4 linked regions of the Homo sapiens genome follow. The protein of the gene in region 4 purifies or fractionates together with the protein of the main gene of each other region. This does not show direct contact. Each region holds a gene or a part of one and is shown on either strand. Other genes may lie near its edges.

The links. Proteins that work in one complex are often made in the same cells at the same time.
Region 1: the proteins of TRIM66 (region 4) and ASPM purify together in Homo sapiens (affinity purification with mass spectrometry, with the first as the bait; one large-scale study listed by BioGRID). This does not show direct contact.
Region 2: the proteins of TRIM66 (region 4) and C16orf96 purify together in Homo sapiens (affinity purification with mass spectrometry, with the first as the bait; one large-scale study listed by BioGRID). This does not show direct contact.
Region 3: the proteins of TRIM66 (region 4) and GCDH purify together in Homo sapiens (affinity purification with mass spectrometry, with the first as the bait; one large-scale study listed by BioGRID). This does not show direct contact.

What each region holds. Positions count from the first base shown.
Region 1 is NC_000001.11:197,094,670-197,098,169, reverse strand, and holds part of ASPM (abnormal spindle-like microcephaly-associated protein), read left to right. Parts: intron 1-2,005; coding exon 2,006-2,172; intron 2,173-3,500. UniProt on the Homo sapiens protein: Involved in mitotic spindle regulation and coordination of mitotic processes.
Region 2 is NC_000016.10:4,555,097-4,559,139, reverse strand, and holds the start of C16orf96 (uncharacterized protein C16orf96), read right to left. Parts: upstream 2,801-4,043; 5' UTR 2,651-2,800; coding exon 2,231-2,650; intron 1-2,230.
Region 3 is NC_000019.10:12,894,160-12,897,329, forward strand, and holds part of GCDH (glutaryl-CoA dehydrogenase, mitochondrial isoform a precursor), read left to right. Parts: exon of another isoform or gene 1-752; intron 753-1,832; coding exon 1,833-1,962; intron 1,963-2,045; coding exon 2,046-2,262; intron 2,263-2,750; coding exon 2,751-2,854; intron 2,855-3,143; coding exon 3,144-3,170. UniProt on the Homo sapiens protein: Catalyzes the oxidative decarboxylation of glutaryl-CoA to crotonyl-CoA and CO(2) in the degradative pathway of L-lysine, L-hydroxylysine, and L-tryptophan metabolism. It uses electron transfer flavoprotein as its electron acceptor. Isoform Short is inactive.
Region 4 is NC_000011.10:8,676,166-8,679,665, reverse strand, and holds part of TRIM66 (tripartite motif-containing protein 66), read left to right. Parts: 5' UTR 1-46; intron 47-1,496; exon of another isoform or gene 1,497-1,532; intron 1,533-3,500. UniProt on the Homo sapiens protein: May function as transcription repressor; The repressive effects are mediated, at least in part, by recruitment of deacetylase activity. May play a role as negative regulator of postmeiotic genes acting through CBX3 complex formation and centromere association.

The DNA of each region.
Region 1 (3,500 bases), on a different chromosome or scaffold from region 4:
TTGGGATTTAAGCACACTTTGTTTCTTCTCTCAACCCTTGGTTTCTTGATACCATAATCTCTTAGCTGTCTTCTTTCCCTCTTAACGCTATGTTGGCTTCTCTTGTCAATGTCTGTAAATTTTGATGTTCTTCAGGTGTGATGTGTGTGTGTGTATATATATATATATTTGTAAATATATATATACACACACGTATATCTATACATATATATAATTTTCTCATTAAAACTTTGTTTTAATGGGTCTCAAAATTCTGTGACAGATTTTCGGTCAATTTGTTTTCATTAAAAAGTACTGATTTTAAAAACTAGTAACTTATAACTGCCACAAGCAAAACAAAAACAAAAACACCAAAATGGTCCACAAAACATTCTCCTTTCCTCCTGAAGGTTTTATGATGCAGTGTTACCATTAACCAGTCTTTTACTGTTACAGTTAAATGGCCAATTGAAACAAACAGTTCTGAGACCATTCTTCTACCACTGATTAAGACTGAGGTGGCAGGTATTGGGGATATACATAAATAATGTATGCAGATTTACATAAAAACCGTATACAATATAGTCTGAATGAGTTAAGGTCATCTCAGAGTAATTTTGGCCATATATAATTATTGCATTATCAACTGAATTTAGAACCTAATCTAAATATACGTTGTGCCTATAGTATTTGTTGTGCTGCGGGATAATTAAGGAATCAGAGAGACCGAGGGATTTGAGGAGGAATTATTTAATTATTTATGTGCACCGACCCAGTCGGATTAACATCCAAAGAGGACTGAGCCCTGAACAAAGAGTCAAGCTACCTTTTAAGCATTTCGTGGGGCATGGGGAGATCTGTGCAGGGGGAAGCGTATTACAGAAGAGAGAAACAAAGACAGTTATTCAAGTAAGAGATGCATTACATTATTTCTTACTTTTTAAGGAACAACATGTTTTACAACTTGAGATTATCTGTCTAGTGTCCTTGCAGCTGCACAGCTAGAGAAACAGTCTTCACAATGCCTGGGAAAGGGAGAGATAAGGCTCACTAGCCACAGAGAGAAAAACACAGTTAATTTTAAAGGACTCCAGCCCTTTCTCTTCCCAAGGGGAATTGGGTTTTCTTACATACAACTGAGTTTTTGCTTACACAGTCTTTAATTTCTTTTAATTCCTCTTCCTGTAGGGATGTTGGAGTCAAATAGACTTGGGTTCAAATCTTGACTCTGTCACTTAACAGCTATATGCTAACAAGTCCTTCTTAATTTCAATTTTGGATTTTTTTCCTTTTTTATAAAACAGAGATCTTAACCATTTTATAAGATATTTATAAATATTAAGTAAGACAACTCTGCCACTTATTAACCTGTGTGACATCAACAAGTTACTCAATTTCTCTAGGCCTTGATTTCCTCATCTCTAAATTAGAGATAATAGTATTATCTACCCATGTGATTATTAAGGACTAATCTTCTTAGTGCTTAGTTCAATAAGTTGTAGCTGTCATGTAAACCTTTAGTCTTCCAGAAGGTTGTCAAAATCAGAAAGTCTGACAGTCCTATCACAGGAGCTCTCAGGATTCTCCTGCAGGCTGAACACAGAACCCAAAGTGAATATGGATTGGGAAGAATTCCTCTTTCTCCCCAGAACCTGCAGTAGGTCAATGTGTTCATTTTCTTTTCTTCCAAATGGATTGAGGTGATGAGGATAATTTACATAATGTGGGGCTTTTCAGACATGTGTGTCTTACAATTTATAAATACTGGTTAGGGTTTTGTTAGGCTGGGCTGGCAGCCAGCCATAAGGTATGTGTGATAAAGCACATAATACGTGTTCACTATAGTAAGCACCACTGTTCTCAGAAGACTCATTACATGTCAAAGTCTAAAAGAGTCATGATATGACTATGCAATTTATTTTTGTCTGCACTAACCTTATTTTAACTGTCTTTATACTGATTTGTCTTATTTACAAAAAAAAAGAGACAACTCATTGCATACTTGTTATATTTATGTATTTAATAGGCTATGTGGAGGAGATATAGAGCCAAGAAATATTTATGTAAAGTGAAAGCTGCCTGCAAGATTCAAGCCTGGTATAGATGTTGGAGAGCACACAAAGAATATCTAGCTATATTAAAAGCTGTTAAAATTATTCAAGGTTGCTTCTATACCAAACTAGAGAGAACACGGTAATGTATCATAGTTCTGTGGAGAGTGTAAAAGTATTTGTGTGTGATAGCTAAGTCTTTACATAAAATAACACTGCTTATTGATTTTTATTTTAAATATTTGTTATGCTTAATTTATATGGTTGGTTTTGTTGATATTTTCTTTATTAAGGAAACAAAATACATCTCTCGTACTGTCTTGCTTTTTTGAGATAGAGCATAGCCTTTAATTAATATAATCTAAAAATATTATATACTTGATTAATTCAGGTTCATAAGGATTAGAGTAAGGACAGAGACGTAGGAAGTGAATAAAATCATTTAGTTAAGACTTGGTTTTCTTATTAGTGCTTTGGGCCATTTTGCTGGGTGACTTAACTACTGGCAAAATTTGTTTTCTTACTCATTCTTTTTTTCTTTGAACTTTGTATTATTCCTCATACTCTTTGTCATTAATGATGAAGACCCTAATTACCAACCTGTCTATGCTAATTGTATTTCACTATTCCTAGCTTATTTCTCACACACACATTTTCAGAAGCTGTTACCAGATCATCTTTTTTTAAGTTCATAGTATAAGAATTTTTCTTCAGCTCCCAGAGTTGATGAATTATTGAATCAATGATGGTTTTAAAGATGGTTTAGGAAGGCACACTAGTGTGAGAGGAATTTTTGGATGAAGCCCATGGGTAGAAGCAGGGCTTAACATATACAGTTGATCGCATGAAGATAGAAGTAGAATGTTGGTTACCAGAGGCTAGGATAGGGAGAGGGGAGGGGTGGATAACGACAGGCTGGTTAATGGGTACAAAAATACAGTGAGAAGGAATAAGATTTACTGTTTAGTAGCACAATAGGGCAACTATAGTTAACAATAATTTATTGTATATTTCAAAATAACTAGAGGAATAGAATTAGAAGTTTCCTAATAGAAGGAAATGATAAATGTTCGAGGTGATGGATATCCCATTTACCCTGATTTGATCATTACTCATTGTGTGCTTGAATCAAAATATCACATGTACTCTGTAAATATTTACAACTATTATATATCCATAAAAATAAAAATTAAAAAGCATATAAAGATACAGTTGCTACTATCAGCTATTAAGGACCAGTATCTAATTTTCCTGTAACAGATGCTGAATTTTTCTCAATGGTGTTTGGTCCTATTTTCTAAGAAACATGGCAACAAAACAAGCTACTCATTGTACTTTTTCCACATTATCAAGAACAGAGTAGAAAACCTGTCCATTCTCACATTTTATCTCTTAGTATTATGTTGATCCCTAAAATTTAATCTCTAGTGCTCAGATTTTTTAAAATTTTTCTCCAGTTCTGTTTACGAA
Region 2 (4,043 bases), on a different chromosome or scaffold from region 4:
GGACATGCTGCCTCCAGGGATAGGAAGGCAGTCATCGCTGGATGGTCTCCTTTTTGGAGACAAGACTTTCTCCGTCACCCAGGCTGAAGGGCAGTGGTGCGATCTCAACTCACTGCAACACCTGCCTTCCAGGCTCAAGTGATTCTCCTGCCTCAGCCTCCCGAGTAGCTGGGATTACAGGTGCCTGCTACCACACCTGGCTAATTTTTTTTTTTTTTTTTTTTTTGAGACAGAGTCTCGCTCTGTCACCAGGCTGGAATGCAGTGGTGCGATCTCGGCTCACTGCAAGTTCCGCCTCCTGGGTTCAAGCGATTCTCCTGCCTCAGCCTCCCGAGTAGCTGGGACTACAGGCGCACGCAAGCATGCCCAGCTAATTTTTGTATTTTTAGTAGAGACAGGGTTTCACCATGTTGGCCAGGATTGTCTCGAACTCCTCACCTCAGGTGATCCACCCACCTTGGCCTCCCGAAATGCTGGGATTACAGGTGTGCGCCACTGTGCCTGGCCAAATTATTATTACTATTTTTAGACACAGGGGCTTGCTCTGTCCCCCAGGCTGGAGTTCAGGAGAGTGACTACAACTCACTGCAGCTTCCAACTCCTGGGGTTAAGTGATTCTCCCACCTCAGCCTCCTGAGGTAAGACTACAGGTGGACGCCACCACACCCGGCTAATTTATTCATTTTTTTATAGAGATGAGGTCTCACTACGCTGCCAAGGCTGGTCTTGAACTCCTGGGCTCAAGTGATCATCCCGCCTTGGCCTCCCAGTGTTGGGATTATAGGTGTGAGCCACTGTGCTCGGCTTATTTTCCCTTTCTTATTTCTTCTTGGGCTGCCAGTAACTGAACACTGTCCACGTGCTGGTCGGGGTTAGCAGGGGTCAGCAGTCAAAGGTGAGCCAGGGTCAGAGGCCACGCCTCAGCGCGCAGCTCCCTTGCCCACCAGCTGCTGGGCCTTCAGCCAATCACTGAGCTCCTCTGAGCGTCAGTTTCCTCTTCTGTAAGGCAGAAGGAATGCCTCTTTGCTGCTCCTCACAGGGCTGGTTCTTGGAGATTCTCACTCACTTGTGTCTATCTCCCCTGCTAGGCCGGGCGTGCCTGTTCACCGTGACTACTCTGGTACTTCTCCCATGGTAGCTCCTCCAGGCATTTTTTAGAAATTGGGGTAAGGCTGAGCACAGTAGCTCACGCTTCTAATCCCAGCACTTTGGGAGGCCAAAGCAGGAGGATCACTTGAGCCTAGGAGTTTGAGTCCAGCCTGGGCAACATAAGGAGACCCTATCTCTACAAACAATACAAAAATTAGCCAGGTGCAGTGGTGCACACCTGTGGTCCCAGTTACTCGGGAGGTTGAGGTGGGAGGATTGCTTGAGTCTGGGAGGTCGAGGCTACAGTGAGCCATGACTGAGTCACTGCACTCCAGCCTGGATGACAGAGTGACACCCTGTCTCAAAAAAAAATTGGGGTGAAATTCACATAATGTACAATTAGCCATTTTTAAGTGAACAATTCAGTGTCATTTAGTACATCAGTGAGGTTGTATAACTACCACCTCCATCTAGTTCCAAAACATTTTCATCACCCCAAAAGGAAACCCTATATCCACAAAGCAATTACTCCCCATTCTCTCCTCCTCCAAGCCCCTGGCAACCACTGCTTTCTGTCTCCATGGATTTACCTATTCTGGACATTTCGTATAAATGGAATCATACACTGGGTAGCCTTTTGTGTCTGGCTTCTTTGCAATACTTGATGGAGGCTGCAAGCTTGGCGTTTTGGTTGTGCCTGACTCTAAAGCACCCTTCTTCCCACTCTGCATAAGGAGATGGCCCATCGTAGGTGAGTAAGCAACAAGATGTCCCAGGAGAAGGCTGGGCGCAGTGGCTCACGCTTGTCATCCCAGCACTTTAGGAAGCCGAGGCAGGTGGATCAGTTGAGATCAGGGGTTTGAGACCAGCCTGGCCAACATAGTGAAACCCCATCTCTACTAAAAATACAAAAATTAGCCGGGTGTGGTGGCATGTGCCTGAAATCCTAGCTACTAGGGAGGCTGAGGCAGGAGAATCACTTGAACCCGGGAGGCGGAGGTTGCAGTGAGCCAAGATCACACCACTGCACTCCAGCCTGGGTGACAGAGCGAGACGGAGTCTCAAAAACAAAAAAAAGACGTCCCAGGAGAGAGCCAGTGGTGAAGGGAGGAAAAGAAGTGTCTGGAGGCTGGGGGCGTACCTTGGCCATGACTTCATCATGACCCTCCACCATCTTCCGGAGCTTGATCAGATGCCACAGGTCCTGGACGGGCCGGGCAGTGCCCTGGCTGGCTTCCAGCAGCTGGGCAGTGGAGGGCAGGTCCTGCAGCAGGGCCAGCTGGTTCTCCAACTTGTCGAGGCGGCTCACCACGTGGTCGAAGACATTGCTGAGCCTCTTCATGGGGTTGAGGATAGGCTGGGCGTCTCCTTCCCTGGGCATGATGACCACCTGCGAGGTCTGCAGGAAGTCCTCATCGCCTGAGAGGACTTTCTTGAGCTCGGCCATGTGGATGTGCTCCAAGATGCCGTGCAGCAGGAGGTGCAGGGCCTTGAAGTTCAGCACCCCGCACTGTGGGATGGCGATGTTGGCCAGCTCGGTGAACGTGAGTGAGAAGCTCATCCTGCCAGGGTGGGTCAGTGGGGCTGGGGTTCCAGGTGTCCTCAAGGACAAGGGGTAGCTTTCAGTGGTTCCGAGAGCTACATGGACTGGTCCTCAGAGGCCTGGGGTGGTGGTGAGTCACAGCAGTCAGGGAGGAATGGCCTCTGTTCTGGCTGGAGCTCAGATCAGAGTCTCTGGTTGCCAGGACACCAAAGAATGTGATGAAACGGGCGCAATTCAAAGTCTGGAGTGGGGCAGGTGCTCCCTGGTAAGCCTCACCCAGAGTAGGTGCTCAGTTAATATTGGATGAATGTTTGAATAGCTGATGGCAGCCTCTTCATTCAAGCCCTCTGGTGATGTGAGACTGGTAACTTTTTCCTAGAAGCACATATGGAAGGGATGGAGAGGCAGCTCCCTCCTTGGAATTTTCTCGAATCCGGGCAGAAGACAGGTTTCTTGGAGTTAGGAAGACCCAGGTTTTACAAAGAGATAAGAATCTGAAGTACTGGCTGGGTGGGTGTGGGGGTTCAGGCCTGTAATCCCAGCACTTTGGGGAGGCAAAGGCGGGAGGACTGCTTGAAGCCAGGAGTTCGAGAGCAGCCTGGGCAACATAGTGAGACCCTGTTTCTACAAAAAAAAATTTGTAATTAGCTGGATGTGCTGGCGCACATCTGTAGTCCCAGCTACTCAGGAGGATGGGGTGGGAGGATTGCTTGAAGCCAGGAGTTTGAGGCTACAGTGAGCTATGATTGTGCCACTGCACTTAGCCTGGGCAACAGAGTGAGACCTTGCCTCAAAAAAAAAAAAAAAAAGAAAAGAAAAGAAAAAGAAAAGAGAAAAGGCCGGGCACAGTGGCTGACATATGTAATCCCAGCACTCTGGGAGGCCAAGGCGGGTGGACCACGGGGTCAGGAATTCAAGACTAGCCTGGCCAAGACGGTGAAACTCCGCCTCTACTAAAAATACAAAAATCAGCCAGGCGTGGTGGCACGTGCCTGTAATCCCAGCTACTCTGGAGGCTGAGGCAGAGAATTGCTTAAATCCGGGAGGTGGAGGTTTCAGTGAGCCAAGATCGTGCCACTGCACTCCAGCCTGGGCGACAGAGCGAGACTCCGTCTCAAAAGAAAAAAAAAAGAATCTGAAGAACTACATTCATTTCTGGACGCATCCAAAGGCCCCCCACAGTGTTCCATTTTCTCGTGTGTGTGTGTGTGTGTGTGTGTGTGTGTGTGTGTGTGTGTAGTGTGTGTGACAAAGTCTTTCTCTGTTACCCAGGCAGGAGTGCAGTGGCGCGATCTCCGCTCACTGCAACCTCCGCCTCCTGGGTTCAAGCGATTCTCCTGCCTCAGCCTCCTGAGTAGCTGGGATCACAGGCGCCTGCCACCACGCCCAGCTAATTTTTATATTTTTAGTG
Region 3 (3,170 bases), on a different chromosome or scaffold from region 4:
ACTGGCTGCCAGAAACTCATTGAAGTGGACGATGAACGCAAACTTTGTACTTTTTATGAGAAGCGTATGGCCACAGAAGTTGCTGTTGACGCTCTGGGTGAAGAATGGAAGGGTTACGTGGTCGGAATCAGTGGTGGGAACAATAAACAAGGTTTCCCCTTGAAACAGGGTGTCTTGACCCATGGCCGTGTCCACTTGCTACTGAGTAAGGGGCATTCCTATTACAGACCAAGGAGAACTGGAGAAAGAAAGAGAAGATCAGTTCATGGTTGCATCGTGGATGCCAATCTGAGTGTTCTCAACTTGGTTATTGTAAAAAAAAGGAGAGAAGGGTATTCCTGGACTGACTGAGACTATGATGCCTCGTCACCTGGGGCCCAGTACAGCTAGCAGAATCCGTAAACTTTTCAGTCTCTCTAAAGAAAATGATGTCTGCCAGTATGTTGTAAAAAAGCCCTTAAACAAAGAAGGTAAGAAACCTAGGACCAAAGCACCCAAGATTCAGCGCCTTGTCACTCCACATGTCCTGCAGCACAAACAGCGGCGTATTGCTCTGAAGCAGCCGCATATTAAGAAAAATAAAGAAGAGGCTGCAGAATATGCTAAACTTTTGGCCAAGAGAATGAAGGAGGCTAAGAAGCACCAGGGACAAATCGTGAAGAGACGCAGACTGTCCTCTCTGCGAGCTTCCACTTCTAAGTCTGAATCCAGTCAGAAATAAGATTTTTTGAGTAACAAATAAGATCAGATTCGCAAAAAAAAAAAAAAACCCACAAGGCCCTGTGTGACCAGGCCTCTGCTGACCTTTCCACCTCATCTCTGGCCACTCATGTGATCCTCCCAGCCAGACTTAGCTACTTGAAATTCTCCAGAAGTACCACCAGTTCTTTACACATCTGTTCCCTCTCCCAGCACTGCTCTTCCCCACAGCCTCCTCCTGCTTAACTCCTCACACCCTTCCAGTTTGGCCAACTCCTTCCTGATTCCCTGGGTCCCCCTCCCCATCTTGGCATTGTGATCATGACTTTGGGGTAACCTGTCTCTTGAAAGCAGGGCCAGATCTAACTTAGTTATGAGGTCTGACTCAGGGGCGAGGGTAATTTTTTTTTTCTTTTTTTGAGACAAAGTCCCGCTCCGTCCCCCAGGCTGAAGTGCAGTGGTACAATCTTGGCTCACTGCAACCTGCGGTTCCCCAGTTCAAGCAATTCCTGTGCCTCGGCCTCCCAATTAGCTGGGATTGCAGGTGCTTGCTACCCGTGCCTGGCTAATTTTTGTATTTTTAGTAGAGATGGTGTTTCACTATGTTGGCCAGGCTGGTCTCGAACTCCAGACCTCAAGTGATCCATCTGCCTTGGCCTCCCAAAGTGCTGAGATTACATGTGTGAGCCACCTCGACTGGCCTAATTTTTTGTATTTTTAGTAGAGATGGGGTTTCACCATATTGGTCAGGCTGGATTTTTTTTCTTTTTTGAGATGGAGTCTTGCTCTGTTGCCCAGGCTGTAGTGCAGTGGCATGATCTTGGCTCACTGCAACCTCTCCTGCCCGGGTTCAAGCGATTCTCCTGCCTCAGTCTCCTGAGTAGCTGGGATTACAGGCACCCACCACCACATCTGGCTATTTTTTTTTTTTTTTTTTTTTAAGTAGAGATGGGGTTTCACCATGTTGGCCAGGCTGGTCTGGAACTCCTGACCTCAATTGATCCACCTGCCTTGGCCTCCTAAAGTGCTGGGATGACAGGCGTGAGCCACTGCACCCCGCCACGAGGATAATTTTTGAGTAAGGGGATGTATCAGGGACCAGGCAGCCTTGTGACTTTGTCTTGTGCCTGCAGCCAAGGGGGAGCTCCTGGGCTGCTTCGGGCTCACAGAGCCCAACAGCGGAAGTGACCCCAGCAGCATGGAGACCAGAGCCCACTACAACTCATCCAACAAGAGCTACACCCTCAATGGGACCAAGACCTGGTAAGGGTTCTGGGTGGTGGGCAGGTGGTGAACAGGGGCAAAGGGGCACTGGTCAGACCCCTCACCGACTGTTCCATCCCCAGGATCACGAACTCGCCTATGGCCGATCTGTTTGTAGTGTGGGCTCGGTGTGAAGATGGCTGCATTCGGGGCTTCCTGCTGGAGAAGGGGATGCGGGGTCTCTCGGCCCCCAGGATCCAGGGCAAGTTCTCGCTGCGGGCCTCAGCCACAGGCATGATCATCATGGACGGTGTGGAGGTGCCAGAGGAGAATGTGCTCCCTGGTGCATCCAGCCTGGGGGTAAGTGGCAGCCACTTTGGGAATGGGTGTTGGGTCACCTGCGGATGCGGCTTTGTCAGGCAGGCTCCGTGCTGGGGACGCGGCTCCCTGTGCCTGTGGAGCCCACACAGTGGTGATTCTTACTCAGCCGGACTCGCTGACGTGCTGAAAACTGCCCCCATTTGGTGACCGTCTCGCTCATCCCGGCTCTGCCCGGGACACATGGGCCTGAACCAGCTCAGTCATTTGACTCACAGTGCATCTTCTGGCATCCGTCAGCCTCCTGGCTCTGAGCATCGAACCCAGATGCCAGGCTGGGTGGGACTGTGTGCAAACCGAGTGAGCAGGCACCGAGCTTCAGTGCCAGGGCCATCTGTGATGTGAACCACAACCTGAGTCCCCCTGCGTGGGGTGGCTGGGGAGGAGGCTTTCCCTGCTTCAGAGTTGGTTCTGCATAGGCCCTCTTGGTGTCTCTTGGGTGGGCCTGAGGCGCCATCTCAACCCTACAGGGTCCCTTCGGCTGCCTGAACAACGCCCGGTACGGCATCGCGTGGGGCGTGCTTGGAGCTTCGGAGTTCTGCTTGCACACAGCCCGGCAGTACGCCCTCGACAGGTGTGTGAGGGCTGCAGTGAGATTCTCTGGGGGTGTGGGGCAGCTTGGGTTTCACTCTCTATACCATGGGTGACTCCCCAGCCCCCACCCACCAGGCCTGAGTTCCTTGCTCTGGAATGACCAGTGACGTCCTTCTGAGCAGCTGTGGGCTGAGTCAACGGCAGGGCCAGGGCAAGCTTGGGGGCACTGAGGCAGCCTGGGAAGGCGTCCTGGAGCAGGGGGCCCCAGGACAGGGACGGGGTGGGAGAGTGGGCCTCCCCTCGCTCTTACCCTGCCATTGCCCATGTAGGATGCAGTTTGGTGTCCCACTGGCCAG
Region 4 (3,500 bases):
TGGGTTACCTGGAACCTAACCTTGGGAAGATGATCTGTCAATGGAGGTAAGCTGGGCAGGGCCTTGGGAATGAAAGGGAACCATCAGTGGTATTAGAGCTGGGGCCTACAATAAGGACCACCACTGCAAGGGGTTGAGGTAGGGTTCTGGGTGCTAAGACACTCCTCTTGGATAGTTTGCCAGGTTCCTTGGTTATAGAGGAGCTACGTTCTGTCCCTCAGGTCACGCGGCTGAACAGAAGGCCTCCCAGAGTGGACCCAGCACTACCCGTTGGGTTCTGTGTTCACCTAACATTCTTCTCATCAATGGCTTGATCTGGTTGTAGAGGGAGTACCCTGGGTAGTTGTCTGGCTCAATCCAGTTTTCTATCCAGCTCCCTCTCCTTCAAAAGGCAACCACATGACTTAAACACACAGCTCATGTGGTGTTTGTTCAGTGTGTGTCACTTTTCCTAGGTTGACAGAGGTCTGAGAGAGCAGACAAAGCTGAGTTTTCTGTCTGCAAAGTGGAGTAGCAGCCAGATATTTGGCATTAGGGGACCTGTCCCTCCCAGCTAGGCACATGGGACATGACCTTTGGCCATGACTCCTGAGGGGTGTCCTTCTCTGTGACATCTCTTCTGAAGTACAGCATGGCTTTGTGACATCTCAGGCATCTGGGCTTCCTCAGAGTGTGAGGGCCTCAGAAAATACCTCAGAAATGAACGGAAGAGATGATACCAGACAGCAGCCTGGTGAGGCAGGCAAGTGTGCTGATTTTTTGCTGCCCCAGGCCTCTCTCCAGGTGGCCTTGGGAACACATCATCACCCTGAAGAAGGCCCTGGTGATCCCTCTTCCTTTCTCTCCTCACTGGGTTCCTGAATTCGACATCAGTCCTTCAGATAGCAGCAACATCCTGAATGAATCCAGCTCTGTTTTCTTGCTCTCCATCTTTAGATGTGGACATTTGGAAATATGTTCGTTTTCTTTTTTAAGTAGAGCACTGTTAATCAAGATGGGAAGAAGCAGTGTTTCTGCTTTTTTTCCAAGTGAGAATTAGAGAAAAGCTCAGAAATCCCAATTTACTTCAGAAAGACTTGAAAAATTATACGTAATAGACAGTACAACAGTAAAGAAAATTCTGAAAAAAATATAAGTATAAGCAACTCAAATCATTCCACCCTGTGATGCCATTTTCTTTTCTGAGTATTACCTTTCAACCCTTGTATACATGGAGACATAGCTGTCTGCAAAGTTAGTGATCATAGTATACAAATCCTTTTGTATTCTTTTTATTTAATACCATGGCAGTTTTTCGTATCACTACCCAGTCTTCATGATTATTTTTAACAGCTGAAGAATAATTTATTTTCAGCATGTGCTATCTTTTATTAAGCCACTTTCTTGTGTATTTTGTTTTTTTAAAAAATTCTTATTGTATTCTTTGCTGTTAGAGACAATGATGGAATGAGCATTTGTATATAATTTTTTCTTCTCCTGTTGAATAACTTGTCTAGGATAAATTCCCAGAAGTGAGACTGCTGGATTATATGGTATGAACATTTTTGTGATTCATTTTATGTTACTATGTATTTTTTCCAAAAGGATCGTACCAATTTATTCACCAGCAATATGTACAGTTTCCAGTTTCATTTTAACCTCCCTAGCCTTGGGGGTTTTTGTTTGCCTTTATCGGTAGTTTTTGATATATGGCATTTAGGGGAAATCCATAGGATCAGGCGAGGTTTTCTTCAGCACAAAGTAAAAATAATCTAATTGGAAGATTAGGAATTTTTAGGAGTCTTTCTTTCCTGTGTTGGATAGAGTGTTCTACATGGCAATTACATTCCTAAAGCTTTATTGGAAACTAGGGTGGAAAACCTTGTTGCCATTAAACTCAGAGTAACAAAACGTGAAAAGAGAAATTCTAGAGTCTTTGAGAACAGCTTATACAATAGCAGAAAAAAGGAGTTACATATTTGGGTTTTACTTTAATTTCAGAGGATAAAATTAATGGAAAGAACACAGAAAGTTGGGTTCATTTCCTAGTTCTGTTTTTTTTGTTGTTGTTTTTAAAGATAAGGTCTTGTATGTTGCCCAGGCTGGTCTCAAACTGCTAGCCTCAAGCAGCCCTCCTACCTCGCCCTCCCAAAGCACTGGGATTACAGGCATGACCATCACGCCCAGCCTCCTAGTTCTGTTTTTACTCACTGAATTATATTGAACAAATAGCATGTTCTCTTTGAATCTGTTTTCTTGTCTGTATAATGAAAAAATAATGAGATTCATTCATTCGTTTTATAAATATTAATTGAGTGTGTACTATGTTCCTATGCTAGGTGCCAGGCAAGTGAGGGGCAGGTACAATTGTGAACAAAAGTCCTTCCCTAAGACTATGTCTAAGACATACATTAAACAAGCAAACAAATAATATATCACATATAACACAGCCTAGCAAAGAGTAGGTACTCTCATTACCTACTATTTCTCGCTCACATTTTCTCCCTAAAATGAGTGTTATTTTTATGATAATTTGTTCTGTACCCTTCATGCAAACAATCTTTGAAATTCTTATTCCCAATGTGATGTGGAATGACTTGTTCCATCATTCCTTAGCAAGGTTAAGGTACTCCAGTAAATATTTTCCTTTTCTTAGATATAGATGTGGTAAGATGTTAAAAGGAGGTGGTTTGTGGCAAGGCAATGTTTTAAAATTTAACTTTTTGTTAACATTTTAAAATGTAAATAAAAATAATTTCCTGGGTTTTGGAAAACTAAGATTTGGAGACATTAGACCCACATTCTTTTAAGTAAAGCACTTCGTTCATATAGATTGCCCAGCCCCTGTAGGCATTTGAATTTACTACCTTGGCTTAAGTACAGTCTTGCAAACTCTGTCCCCTACACTCTTCTAGGTCAGGGGAGATAAGAAGGAGAGGGAAGAACTAAGTTATGATGAAAGCAGCCATAAGAAGGGGGCAGAAATGGGGTCATTTGACCCTTCGTCTTCTCAAATCAGAAACTCATTGTGTGGCTGTGCCTTTAAATTAACCATTTACTTTCATGGAGTTACTTCAATTGCTCTTCTAAGACATAAATGAGATGCCTGTTTCTTTATATTCTTACCCTGTGTAGTACTTGCTGGTGGTGGAAAGCCATGCTACCTCCCTGAATTCCCAGGATTGTGATGCAAGGTCTAATGCAGTAGTTCTCCAAGTGTGGTCTGTAGACCTTATGGGGTGGGGGGTCCCTGAGACCGTTTCAGGGAGTTCACAGGTCAAACAATTTTAATAATAAAGCTAACGTGTTATTTGATCTTTTCACTGGGTTGACATTTGCACTGATGGTGCCAAAGCAATGTTATGTAAAACTGCTGATGTTTTGGGCACCAAACTGGAACAAAACCTTATATTCTTTACCACTAAGCATCTGCCGGTTAAAAAAAAAAAAAAGAAGTTTACCTTAAGAATGTCCATCCATGATGAAGTGGTAACAATTTTTATTAAATCTCAATCCTGAAA